Linked DNA regions of Homo sapiens. The protein of the gene in region 1 purifies or fractionates together with the protein of each later gene. This does not show direct contact. Each region holds a gene or a part of one and is shown on either strand. Other genes may lie near its edges.

What was found. The genes of interacting proteins can lie anywhere in the genome.
Region 2: the proteins of MIB1 (region 1) and RYK purify together in Homo sapiens (affinity purification with mass spectrometry; 2 studies listed by BioGRID and IntAct, with this or other methods). This does not show direct contact.

What each region holds. Positions count from the first base shown.
Region 1 is NC_000018.10:21,736,643-21,743,815, forward strand, and holds the start of MIB1 (E3 ubiquitin-protein ligase MIB1), read left to right. Parts: upstream 1-4,149; 5' UTR 4,150-4,941; coding exon 4,942-5,170; intron 5,171-7,173. UniProt on the Homo sapiens protein: E3 ubiquitin-protein ligase that mediates ubiquitination of Delta receptors, which act as ligands of Notch proteins.
Region 2 is NC_000003.12:134,240,846-134,247,873, reverse strand, and holds part of RYK (tyrosine-protein kinase RYK isoform 2 precursor), read left to right. Parts: intron 1-7,028. UniProt on the Homo sapiens protein: May be a coreceptor along with FZD8 of Wnt proteins, such as WNT1, WNT3, WNT3A and WNT5A. Involved in neuron differentiation, axon guidance, corpus callosum establishment and neurite outgrowth.

The DNA.
Region 1 (7,173 bases):
TAGAAAAACCAATTTAGAGAAGAACATAAATGACCTGATGGAGCTGAAAAACACAGCACAAGAACTTGGTGAAGCATACACAAGTATCAATAGCTGAATCGATCAAGTGGAAGATGGGATATCAGAGACTGAAGATCAACTCAATGAAATAAAGTGAGAAGACAAGATTAGAGAAAAAAGAGTGAAAAGAAAAGAACAAAGCCTCCAAGAAATATGGGACTATGTAAAAAGACCAAATATATGTTTGATTGGTGTACCTGAAAGTGACGGGGAGAATGGAACCAAGTTGGAAAACACTCTTCAGGATATCATCCAGGAGAACTTCCCCAACCTAGTAAGGCAGGCCAACATTCAAATTCAGGAAATACAGAGAACACCACAAAGATACTCCTCGAGAAGAGCAACCCTAAGACACATAATCATCAGATTCACCAAGCTTGAAATGAGGAAAAAATGTTAAGGGCAGCCAGAGAGAAAGGTCGGGTTACCCACAAAGGAATCCCATTAGAAGGGGAAGTCCATTAGACTAACAGCGGATCTCTCGGCAAAAACCCTACAAGCCAGAAGAGAGTGGGGGCCAATATTCAACATTCTTAAAGAAAAGAATTTTCAACCCACAATTTCATATCCAGCCAAACTAACCTTCATAAGCAAAGGAGAAATAAAATCATTTTCAGACAAGCAAATGCTGAGAGATTTTGTCACCACCAGGCCTGCCTTATAAGAGCTGAAGGAAGCACTAAACATGGAAAGGAACAGCCAGTACCAGCCACTGAAAAACATGCCAAATTTTAAAGACCATCGACGCTATGAAGAAACTGCATCAGCTAATGGGCAAAATAACCAGCTAGCATCATAATGACAGGATCAAATTCACACATACCAATATTAAACTTAAATGTAAACAGGTTAAGTGCCCCAATTAAAAGACACACACTGGCAAATTGGATAAAGAGTCAAGACCCATTGGTGTGCTGTATTCAGGAGACCCATCTCATGTACAAAGACACACATAGGCTCAAAATAAAGGGATGGAGGAATATTTACCAAGCAGATAGAAAGCAAAAAAAGGCAAGGGTTGCAATCCTAGTCTCTGATGAAACAGACTTTAAACCAACAAAGATCAAAAGAGATAAAGAAGGGCATTACATAATGGTAAAGGGATCAATGCAACAAGAAGAGCTAACTATCCTAAATATATATGCACCCAATACGGGAGCACCCAGATTCATAAAGCAAGTTCTTAGAGACCTACAAAGAGACTTAGACTCCCACACAATAATAGTGGGAGACTTTAACACCCCACTGTCACTATTGGACAGATCAACAAGACAAAATTAACAAGGATATCCAGGACTGGAACTCAGCTCTGGACCAAGCAGACCTAATAGACATTTACAGAACTCTCCACCCCAAATCAATAGAATATACATTCTTCTCAGCACCACATCGCACTTATTCTAAAATTCTAATATTGTTATGTGTGAATTTGAACCTGTCATTATGAGGCTAGCTGGTTATTCTGCATAATTGGAAGTAAAACACTCCTCAGCAAATGCAAAAGAATGGAAATCATAACAAACAGTCTCTCAGACCATAGTGCAATCAAATTAGAACTCAGGATTAAGAAACTCACTCAAAACCTCACAGCTACATGGAAACTGAAAAACCTGTTCCTGAATGACTACTGGGTAAATAAGGAAATTAAGGCAGAAGTAAAGATGTTCTTTGAAACCAGTGAGAACAAAGACACAATGTACCAGAATCTCTGGGACTCATTTAAAGCAGTGTGTAGAGGGAAATTTATAGCACTAAATGCCCACAGAGAAAGCAGGAAAGATCTAAAATCAACATTCTAGCATCACAATTAAAATAACTAGAGAGGCTGGGCACGGTGGCTCACGCCTGTAATCCCAGCACTTTGGGAGGCCGAGGCGGGCGGATCACGAGGTCAGAAGATGGAGACCATCCTGGCTAGAATGGTGAAACTCCATCTCTACTAAAAATACAACAAATTAGCTGGGCATGGTGGCAGGCACCTGTGGTCCCAGGTACTCGGGAGGCTGAGTCAGGAGAATGGCGTGAACCCGGGAGATGGAGCTTGCAGTGAGCTGAGATCACACCACTGCACTCCAGCCTGGGCCACAAAGTGAGACTCCATCTCAAAAAAAAAAAAAAAAAAAAAAAAAAAAAAAAAAAAAAAAAAAAAAAAAAAAAAAAAAAAACCAACAAAACTAGAGAAGCAAGAGCAAACAAATTCAAAAGCTAGCAGAAGACAAGAAATAACTAAGATCAGAGCAGAACTGAAGGAGGTAGAGACACGAAAAACCCTTCAAAAAAATTAATGAATCCAGGAGCTGTTTTTTTGAAAAAGATCAACTACATAGATAGACCACTAGCCAGACTAATGCAGAAGAAGAGAGAAGAATCAAATAGATGCAATAAAAAATTATAAAGGGGATATCACCAACAATCCCACAGAAATACAAACTACCATCAGAGAATACTATAAAAACTTCTACGCAAATAAACTAGAAAATCTAGAAGAAATGGATAAATTCCTGGACACATACACTCTCCCAAGACTAAACCAGGAAGAAGTCGAATCCCTAAACAGACCAATAACAAGTTCTGAAATTGAGGCAATAAGTAATAGCCTACCAACCAAAAGAAGTCCAGGACCAGACAGATTCACAGCCGAATTCTACCAGAGGTACAAAGAGGAGCTGTTACTGTACTTCCTAAAACTATTCCAAACAACAGAAAAAGAGGGAATCCTCCCTCCTTCGTAAAACTCATTTTACGAGGCCAGCATCATCCTGATACCAAAACCTGGCACAGACACAACAAAAAAAGAAAATTTCAGGCCAATATCCCTGATGAACATCGATGCGAAAATCTTCAATAAAATACTAGCAAACAGAAGCCAGTAGCACATCAAAAAGCTTATCCACCACTATCAAGTTGGCTTTATCCCTGGGATAAACACTTTGGGAGGCTGAGGTGGGAGGATTGCTTGAGCTCAGGAGTTCGAGACCAGTCCGGCCAGGGAAAATAGTGAGATATATCCCCCAAGAAGCTCCCCACTGCCCCCCCGCTCATCTCTGCCAAAAATACAAAAAATTAGCTGGGCGTGGTTGTGCGTTCCTGAGGTCCCAGCTACTCAGAAGGCTGAGGTGGGCGGACCCCTTGAACCCAGGAGGCGGAGGTTGCGGGGAACGGAGATGGCGCCACTGCACTCCGGCCTGGCTGACAGTGAGACCCTGTCTCAAAAACAAAGCAAAAAAAAAAACAACAACAAAAAAAACCAAACAAAAAAAATTTTATTTCAGTACATAGTAATTCCTTGGGTACATTTTACGTCCGTTTTCTTGTCTTTTCCCTTGATTATCCATTCTGTTAGCATTTCCCTCCTTTGACTATCAGGAAAAGCAACAGTTTATGCTAACAATGCATGCTAACGGTGCCAACAGTGCTGGCCTGTGGAAACACTGGTTTTAAACCCTATGCAGCATAATGTCATTTGAATAACGGCAACCAGAAACTTCTCTTACAGTCTTCGAATCTTCCTTTGAAGGTTGTATTTTGTAATTAGGGACTGAATTTTTTCGTGAGTGGAGGCAATTATTAATGAGCAAAGTTTGGAGTCTGCCTATCACCCTAATTCTGCATAAAGTCAAGACACACCTTCTAAAAGTCTTTACCGTTGCTCACAACATTCCATACCATGCTGTTCAGCTTAAAAACACACTACTAACCTGCTCTGTCTGGTTTGAAATGTTTTCAATTTACACACAAATACAGATCGCCCTGAATTTGTGAATGTATTTCTACCTTCGTTAAAAAAGAAGACTAAAAGAATATGGAATCCCTAATTCACATTTAGTTCGCCTAGGAAAACTAGCAGTTAGTGAAAAACTGGCCACATCACAGCCGCACAGCTCCAGCAGCCCGGGTAGCTTCCCCACCCTCACTTTCTCCAGCCCCGCCTCCAGGACGGCCTAACCGCTTTCCTCATAGCTCATTGGGCGCGCGGCACCACCGGGCGGCAACTCCAGGGATCCGCCCCTGGGCCCGCCCCTCCATCGCCCGGGGCTGGGGTTGGGCAACCGTCCGCCCTTTTTCTAGACCGCGCGCATGCGCACTCTCCTTGGACCCTGGAGAGACGCTTAGGGATCAGTTTTCTCCTCCTTTCTTCCCGCGATCGCGCGGCTCTCTGGAAGCCTTCCCACTCTATTATTGCCGAGGATCCCCCTCCTAGACACTCTGAGAAGGTGCCGCTCCGGCCTTGGGTACGGCGGTACCCGGATGTGGAGTCGCTCTCGCCCGGCTGGGACTCTGTGGCGGGGCGGAGCGCGGCGGCTGGTGCGGGGGCAGAGAGAAGGGGGCCTGAGGGCCCGGGCGCTCGCCGGACGCCGGGAGGTACCACCGCTGCCCACGGGGGAGGAGGCGGCGCCGGCGCTTGGGTGCCCGCCCCCGAGCGAGGGGCCGGGGTGGCAGAAAGGCCGGCAGTTAAGCTTGCTCCCCGCCGCCCCCCTCGGGCTAGCCTCCCCCGGCCCCCTGCGCTCCTCGCGCTGCCGGCCGGGGGAGAGCGTGGTTTCCTTGCGGCCGTCGCTGTAGCCTGGCCGGGGAGCCCGGAGGAAGCGGGAGAGTCCCCGCCCACGGCCCCCTCCCCTCTGCCCGCTCTCCGCCGCCGCCTCCGAGCAGCCGCGGGCCGCCCTCCACTCCGAGCGGGGGGCGCGGCGGCGACAGCTGGGCAGCGGCTTTGGGCTCCGCGGGGACCGCGCCGCCGCCCCCGTGAGTTATTCTCACGTCCCCCGGGGCTCGCTGCCGCCCCCGCCGACGCCTAGAGTCCGGCCCGGGCCCAACTCCCTCACGGGCCCCCCGGCGGCAGCGGCGGCGGCGGCGGCGGCAGCGGCGGAGCCCACCGCCCGGGCCCCGATGAGTAACTCCCGGAATAACCGGGTGATGGTGGAAGGGGTTGGCGCTCGGGTAGTGCGCGGCCCGGACTGGAAGTGGGGGAAGCAGGACGGCGGCGAGGGCCATGTGGGCACCGTCCGGAGCTTCGAGAGCCCCGAGGAGGTGGTGGTAGTGTGGGACAACGGCACAGCTGCCAACTACCGCTGCTCCGGGGCTTACGACCTCCGCATCCTGGACAGCGCGCCCACCGGTAAGCCGCGGCCACCTGGCCAGGGCTTGCGCGCGCGGGGGGAAGGGGCGAGCTGCGGTGGGCGTCGGTGTCGCGGGGAGAGGTCTGCAGTGGGACACCTGGTGGGCAGCGCCCGGCTGGAGCGAGCGGAAAGGCAAAGCGCCAAAGGAATTCTAGGTTCCGAACGGGTGAACAAACACTTTCAGAAAAGACCCTCTACCCCCAAGGGAAATGATGGCAGCACCATCACCGGGATGCTTTCAAGCCTGGAAGACACAAAGCACCGGGAAGAGAACAGACACAGGTCCCCCAACCCGACTCCTCCTCTTGGGAAGGGGTCTGGAGAGGCCTATCTAATAAGCCATTGAAATTAATCAGCCACCAAGTGATAACTGTCTGAAGGGAGGCTTGCTTTGCCATATGGTGCTCAGCTGACCGTTTATAATTGCCAAGGGGCCTTGGTACCTCGGATTTGTGGAGATGCCTTTTTTTTTTTTTTTTTTAACCTCCTGTGACACAGAATTACTTGGAGTTCAGTAGCCAAATGTTACTTGGGACTCTGGAATGATTTTTCATCCAAATTGTTCTATTTTATATCTTTATATCAATAGAGAGAAAAACATCCTGAGCTCTTGAACCATTTCTTTGTGTTAAATACTTTTTCCAAGTGGCAGATCGGCGTGGGGGACACCTGATGTTATTTTTTGTTACACTAACGTCCGTCTCAGTAAGGTGATGTCAGAATCTTACTCATTCACCCAGCAGTGAGTCAGGGTCCTTGATTAGTGAATCTTGATTAGTGAATTTTAGGGGTCTGTTATTGACGCTAGAGTTTCTAAATGATTAAACCAAAGGCTTGCTTTCACAAAATAAATAACAAATTCATTTTCATATAGATTCATCTTTGGTATTATTTATCCTTGATATTTATCCTTGATTCTGTAGAAAATAGTTCACATTTAAAATTGGGTACTTTTCAGAATTCCTAAATGAGCTACTTCTAAGACATTGAGTTTGGCAAAGCCTTACAAATCTTGGAATGGGCTCACAGTTATTATCAGTAGCAATAAAGAAATTAACACAAGCCAACTCAGTTTTTGAACAGATAATTCGTAAAATTGTGTTCCTTAGCTGGCTTTTTAAAAACATTTATTAAAAAAAATTTTTGTTTTAGAGACAGTTGTCTCGTTTTATTTCTCCGGCTGGTCTGGAACTCCTGGCCTCAAGCAACCCTCCTGTCTCAGCCTCCCAAAATGCTGGGATTACAGGAGTCAGCCACAAGGCCAGGCTTCAGATAGCTTTTTGAATATTAAAAAGGGTGTATGTACATGACTAGAAGAAAATGAAAAGATTCAACAGCACAAAAAGGGGCAGCCATTGTTACCAGTTTTTTGTGTAGTCTTGCAGAATACTCTATTGCATGGCAAGCATGTGTGTGACTATACTATAAATCTAATCCCCTTTTAAGTGCAAATGATAATAAACTATATTCACTCCTCTGCACTTTCGTTTCTTTCACTAAATTATATTGGTGATTGTTCCATTGTTTCATGGCTGCATAGTATTCCAGTGATTGGATACGGTGATTTATCTAACCAGGACTTTATCGATGGGCGTTTTATTATTTCATGTTTTCTTTACAATGATGCAGTGAATATATCCTTGTACATATATCCTTGTGTATATGTGTTGAGTATTTCTGAAGAAGTGGAATTGCTGCATCAAAACATTGCACATATTTAACATTTTGGTAGATGTTGACTAATTGCTTTTTGAAGACGTTTTGTGAGTTGAAACTGCCAGCAACAGTGTTTGAGGCCTATGCCTAATTTCTGCCTACTCTTTTTTTTTTTGAGACAGGGTTTTGTTTTGTTACCTGCAGCCTTGAAGTTTTGTTGTCGTGCTAGCTCAAGCTAAAGTCTGACCACAACCCTTATTTGGAGGAATTCTTGGTATCAGTAATTGTAGCTTTATGAGGAAATTTAAGTATCTAGGGTAAAGTGTAACAGATTCTTTACTACGGT
Region 2 (7,028 bases), on another chromosome or scaffold:
TATAATATTTTTAAGACAGTTTAGAGTTCCAAGTAAGAAACTTATAAATGAAGTTGATAGTGACAACTTTATAAATTGAACTAATTACCCTTGATATGAGAATAAATTGTTTTAATCCAGTTAATATATGCATATAGTTTTAAGAGAACCAAAAGGCTTTTTTTTTTTTTTGAGACGGAGTTTCGCTCTTGTTGCCCAGGCTGGAGTCCAATGGTATGATCTTAGCTCACCGCAACCTCTGCCTCCAAGGTTCAAGCGATTCTCCTGCCTCAGCCTCCCCAGTAGTTGGGATTACAGGCACGCATTACCATGCCCAGCTAATTTTGTATTTTTAGTAGAGACGAGGTTTCTCCATGTTGGTCAGGCTGTTCTCAAACCCCCAACCTCAGGTGATCACCCACCTCAGCCTCCCAAAGTGCTGGGATTACAGGTGTGAGCCACCGCATCCGGCTTAAAAGACTTTTGACAAACACAGCAGGCTCTTGCTTTTGTCTTTTTTATCCCTCAGGCTCTACTTTCCAGGGGTAGCTACTACCTCAGCTAGGTCTGTTTATTTTTTCTTCCTCTTTTTTTACTTTCGTCATTCTAAATCAATGTAGAATAAGTCTTTGACTTTCTAGTATCATAACTGAGCTCTTTCTCATTTCTCTCTTAAATCCTCCAATGTAGTTACGTAACTTTTTTGTAAAAATAGCAGTATTTACATTATTGTGTACACAGGTATTGCTAAATAGTGACTTATGATTTTTTTTATACATTTTTGTTTTTCCCACAGCAAATAATTGCATTTTATCAAAATTGCGTTTTGATTCGTTACCTATTTATCTTTGGCTGTGTTCCCTCAACTACTCCAAGAAGTATGTTAAATGCCTTTTGATTTTTTTTTTTTCCAGGTAGCACATTAAATCATCTATCAGTGCCACTTGGTTTCCTCTTAGAGACTTCTTGGTCTGGAGCATTCCATCCTCTTGCTCCAATCTAGATAGTACGATTATTTTTTCTGGGACTTCCTGTTACTTCTTTCCTGTCTTGGAACCTCTGTTTTTTAGATCTCCTGTCTTCCTTTTTCTTGGTTTGCTTCATTTTGCTACTATGTATGTATCCTCAGTAGCTTCTTAGGAAGGAATGATGGGAGATAAATTACTTGAGGCCTTGAATGTCTGAATGTATCTATCCTGTCCTCATACTTTATAGATGGTTTGGCTGAATTTAAAATATTAAGTAGAAATACATTTTTTCATAATTTTGATGGCATATTCACAGTTTTCTGTCTTAAGGGTTTTTGATGAAAAGTCCAAAGCCATTCTGATGCCTCTTTTTTTCTGTTTTTTTGAAGCTCAGGTTCTTTTTCTCTGGCATTCTGAAGTTTTATAAGTTTTTGTGTGGTTGGTTGGTTGGTTCTTTCCTTCCTTTCTTCCTTTTCTTTCTTGTATTACCTTAGTGGGTCCTTTCAATCTAGAGACTCTTTTTAGTTTTCAGAAATGCTTTTTTTTTTTTTAATAATTCCCACCCTTTATTTTCTCTCTCTCTGTGTGTGTGTGTGTGTGTGTGTGTGTGTGTGTGTGTGTGTATTTCTTTCTGAGATGTCTGTTGGTTTGGTTGTTGAACCCACTACAAATGATCTTTAAATTTTCTTAACTAATCTCATGTCTTACGTATTTCTTTGTACTGGAAGGAGTGGGAGGGGGGGAATGGTTCTCAATTTTAATGATCATGTTTTTAAATTTTAGAATCTTTTTCTGTTTCCATTTCATTGCATCTTATTTTATGGATGTATTATCTTTACTTATCTCTGATGTGTGTATTTTTATTTTTTCTTTGTGTTTAATATATTTTTAATATTTCTTCTGTTTCCTCCAGTGTGGTTATTCATTTCAGGGATCTTTTCTTTGTTTGTTTAAGTCATAAATATCTGGTGATCCTTGACTGTCTATAATGAAGAAAAAGATCCTGAGGAGCTGATTGCAGAGGAGAGAACATGTGTGTATTGGTGGTCTAGTGACTTGTGAGTTCAGGTGGACTTTTCATTGGGAGTCTGCCCCGAATATCAACACCTTTACATCTCGTTTGGGGCCAGTGTTCACAATGAAGAAATCATCATCTCCTGCCTCTGGTATGCTTGGTGATATGCCAGCTGCCAGGGTTTGGGTTACCTGGCTGAGGGAGGGATGGAGGCTGTAGCCTTCGACTTCTGGCTACAGTTCTCCTGTCACTGTGATTCAGTTTCTTCAGAAAAAACTTTGGGTTTCCTGCTGGAACTGGGGATCCAAAAGCTTTGAACACCTCTTTCGGTGGCTCCCCCCTTGTCTAGGCTAAGCCTCACATCAGCCTTTGGCATCTCCTTGGTGCCTCAAGACCTGAGCCTCTTGGAGGTCCTGAGGGGCAGTGACCATTCCTTCAAGTACTTTGCCATCTTGCAAAAGTTTGTTTAAAAAAGCATGTTGTCTTTCCTTTTCTGTTTGTCCTTATGGTTTGATGTCTTTGTGATTTTTTTTTTTTAAACTATCATTTTAGAGGAATTTTGGAAGGAAATGGAGGTAAGGGATTATGGTCATTCCACAATGTGTAAATGGCAGTTAGGGTTTGGGTTTAACTATTGAAGATGACGTGTGGCAGTCTTTTTATATGAACAATATTACGAGTAGTTAATGGTGGTTGTAGTAGTAGTTGACACTTTTAAAAGTGCTGTCTTTTGTCTGTGTGGGGCATAGAGGTCATCCCTGTGTTATGTACTGTCATTTCCATTTTATAGATGAGTGTTAGTCTGCTCAGGCTGCTGTAACAAAGTACCATAAATTGGGTGGATTGTAAACAACAGAGATTTATTTCTCACAGTTTTGGAGGCTGGGAAGTCCAGGATCAAGGCTTTGGTAGATTTGATATCTGCTGAGAGCCCTCTTCCTGGTTTATGGATACTGCTTTCTCCCTGTGTTCTCACATGGTGGAAGGGGCAAACGAGCTCCCCTGGGTCTTTTTATAAGGGCTCTAATCCCATTCATGAGGACTGCTCTTATGAGCTAATCACCTCCCAAAGGGCCCTACCTGCTAATACCATCCCTTAGTGGTTAGGATTTCAACATAGAAATTTTGGGGTGACACAGAGAAATGAGAAAACAATAATCTTAGAGTAGGTATGTATTAATGACTAGCCTGGTTTTTTGGTAGTAGTAGGGCACACGGTCCTGATGGAAGTGTATAAGTTCTGAAACACCGAAAGCTTCAGAAGCTTTTAAACTCTGGTTGGCCTTCCTGTGTTCCTGGGCCCTGGTTCATCGCTTGCATTTACAAGCCTGTTACTTGCATAACAGGCTGCAATGTAGGCATTCATTTCTGCATTTTACTGATGAGGACCCTGATTCAGGGCCTTTTGGACAGTGAGTAGAAGGCCAGGTCTTGACTCAGTCCTGCCTGAGACCTGAATTCATACTGTCTCTTTATCAGCTCTGGAGGAGTGCAATTAACCAAAAACTCAAAGAGTAGAACCGCAAGCCTCCTGCCACAGGTGCTTGTTTGTGGTCTTTATTATTATGCTAATTATTCTTGCATCCTCCCATGTTCTTTAATTGATAATTTTCATTGTACTGAGCTCTGTGGAATTCCGGAGCCTGTGAAGGTGGCATATGGCTGGGCAGTGCCAGAAGCTTGGGAAGAACATGCTGGTGGGTGGGTGGGGAATGGTATAAACTGGTTATGCCAACAGTGGTGGTGGTGATAGGGGTCAGGGGGACTTTTGGGAAGAGGCCCCATCTCCCACCAGTTAGAAATTAACTTTGGATAACTTGCTTCTCCTCTTAAAATAAATATCTTCTGGAAAAGTCAAGAATGTTCACATTTTATTTAAAATCAAGTCAATACTAGTTGAAATCACTGTGTCCCAAATCAGTCCAGAAAATTTTTTTGAAGCTAAACCAAGTACCATATATTGTGGTAGAAAATGACAATTCAAAATTATTACACTCCTTTCCCTGAAGATCTCAGAATTTTGTAGGGGAGACTTGCATTTATGACTGTAACAGAGATAAGAGTTATATTGCTGGTTGACATAAGTTATTGTAGGAGCACTTACTTTTGACTGTGGAAAGGGCGGAGGGGAGACAGGCTTAGAGAGTTTAGGAAACTTGTCCCAGGGAAAAAAAAGACATTTGAGCCTCATCTTGAAGGATGAATTTGATAGGCAGAAAAGAGCAGTTCATACCAGGCTGAGAAAGTAGTGTGAACAAAGACATAGAGGGTGGAAGCAGCTGTGTGAAATTGTGGGGTAGGAAAAATCTAATGTGGCTGAGGTGAAAAATTAGCAAAGCCATGGAGCGCCACAGGATAAAGCTGGAAGGTAGGCTGAGGTTAGAGTAGGAATTTGAACTCTTACAGGTGAATTCTTCAGTGAGCTGCTAAAGAATGCAGACTAGGAGAGTGCGCAGTCAGGTCTGGGTTATAGGGAAGATAACTTTGGCCCCAGTGAAAAGGATGGCTTTGGAGAATGAAATGCTGGATCTGGGAAATGAGATAGAGCCAACCTTGTGATGATAAGAGGGATCAACTAAGGCAGTTGAAGGGGTGGGATGGATTTGTGAGGAATTTGGTGAGTTTGGAGAAGACTTAGTAGAAGAGACTTTAGGGCTAAAGAAAGGGGAGGAGTCACAGAGGAATCTAGGGTTTCAGATTTGGGCAACTGAACCAAAGGACCCTTTCCTTTTGGGAGAAGTGGTTGGTCAAGGGAAAGAAAAAGGAGATGAACCATGTATTCCTCTCCTCCCAGCACCCCTCTCTCCTAAATCTCAGAGCCCATGCTTGGTGGGGAGGAGGGGTGGAGGGTTGAAGGTGTCCTCTGCCCATGAGTCTGGCATAACCTGCCAGAGGGCCCAGATCCTGGGTGGGTTTTTGGGAGGTTAGCACTCTGCAGCAAATCCTTAACCCTAGGCGTTTTGGTGGAGTTGGTATTTATTTGAATCCATGTGTTCTTCATTGGGAGACAGGCAGAGACATTGTGCAATTGTGGGTTTGAGGGTTGTTTTTTTTCCTCATGCTACACATGTGAGAGAACTCTATCCAATTATGGCTAAACCTGTCCCCTGTGAGTCACATCCTGAGTTGACTGGTCAATTCCAAAGGTGCTGCCTAAAATGCTGTTTGGATTTTAAGAATCACTTTTGGGACAAATCAAACATGTGAGTATTTATTCAGGCACCTGAGTTGAGAAGTTCCATAGCATTACTTTTGGTGTTTTGATGCAGTTACGCCAATGTTCTGAAAAATCTTGCCAGCTACACATCCTAAAGCAAAACAAAAACTTGTACATGAAACAGAACCATTAGCTACTCTAAAATTATGTCACACTTAAAGGTATACATTTTTGTGCGTTGTTGATGTAAATCAAGTGCAATATTTTCTAATAAAAATTTTATTAAACAGCATTCATTTGTGAAGGTCCTCTTAAAATGTGCCAAAATAAACGTGTGTGTATTGCTCAGTTACATAATAAACAGTTGTTGAATGATTCTTTTTGTGTGTTCAGCAGTGATAATGCTGAGTGGATTTCATAGGTCTCATTCTTATCTTTTTTTTTTTTTTGAGACGGAGTTTTGCTCTTGTCACCCAGGCTGGAGTGTAATGGCATGATCTCGGCTCACTGCAACCTCTGCCTCCTGGGTTCAAGCAATTCTCCTGCCTCAGCCTCCTGAGTAGCTGGGATCACAGGCGTCCACCACCATTCCCAGCTAATTTTTGTATTTTTGGTAGAGATGGGATTTCAGCATGTTGGCCAGTCCAATCTTGAACTCCTGACCTCAGGTGATCCACCCACCTTGGCCTCCTTTCAAAGTGCTGGGATTACAGGCGTGAGCCACCTTGCCCGGCCTCATTCTCATTCTTATATAAATTTTAAGCTGGAATAGACAGCACACAAGTCTCTAGTTAGGGATCACCTGTAATTTAGGGAGGAGGAGGAAGAGCGTATCTTGCTGTATGCCAGGTACTTTACATATGTTCTCTTTTATCAACCATAGGAAGTCGGTGGCATTGACTGTTTTTTGTTTGTTTGTTTTTAAACAGATAAAGCTGAGATGCTGAGGTTGTGGGCAATTAACAGAATTTGCTGTAGGTCACAGAGATGTGTGGGGCTATGTGACTCCAAAGTGCGTGCTTTCTCTACTGTGCTGCCTTTGAAGGTTGACAGTTGACTTAGTCTTTAACCAAAATCATCTGAGAAGCTTTAACAAACTACAGATTCCTTGACCTACCCTGAGCAATTTGTTGAATTGATCTGAGATGGGGCTCAGGTAAATTAACGTTTTGAATGCCATGTTTAATTAATTACAGGAGGTACAGGTTTTCCACATTTGAACGTCTCTGAAATCAGAACCATGTTATAATCAGTGGGGAGAGTCATCAGTTAATAGCTTTTTTCTTTCTTAGTGGCACAAAAAATAAGGATGTACTTTAGATTAAATGAAATATGATATTATAAAAAGGTGATACTGTAAAGGGAACTTAAATACATAGTTTGTCACCTTTCTTTTTTTTTTTTTGAGATAGAGTCTTGCTCTTTCTCTCAGGCTGGAGTACAGTGGTGCAATCTCAGCTCACTGCAGTCTCTGTCTCCCAGCTTCAAGCGATTGTCGTGCCTAAGGCTCCTGAGTAGCTTGGGACTACAGGCGTGCACCACCACGCGTGGCTAATTTTTGTATCTTTTTTTTTTTTTTTTTGGTAGAGATGGCGTTTCACCATGTTGGCCAGACTGGTCTCGAACTCCTGACTTCAAGTGATTTCCCTCCCCCACCAACCCTGTCTGGGCTTCCCAAAGTGCTGGGATTACAGGTGTGAGCCACCATACCAGGCCTCCACCTTTTTTATGTGCATATGCATGTGTTTGTCACAACTTTCAGAATTGTAAAATTCACTGGTGGTATTTATTATTTGCTTACAGCAATAGCTGTGTAGTAATGCCCTTGCAGGGAAATCATAAAATGAATGAGATATTGTCATTAGATTAAGAGCAATAGCAAGGTTACTTTTCAGCCAAGAAGCTGCAG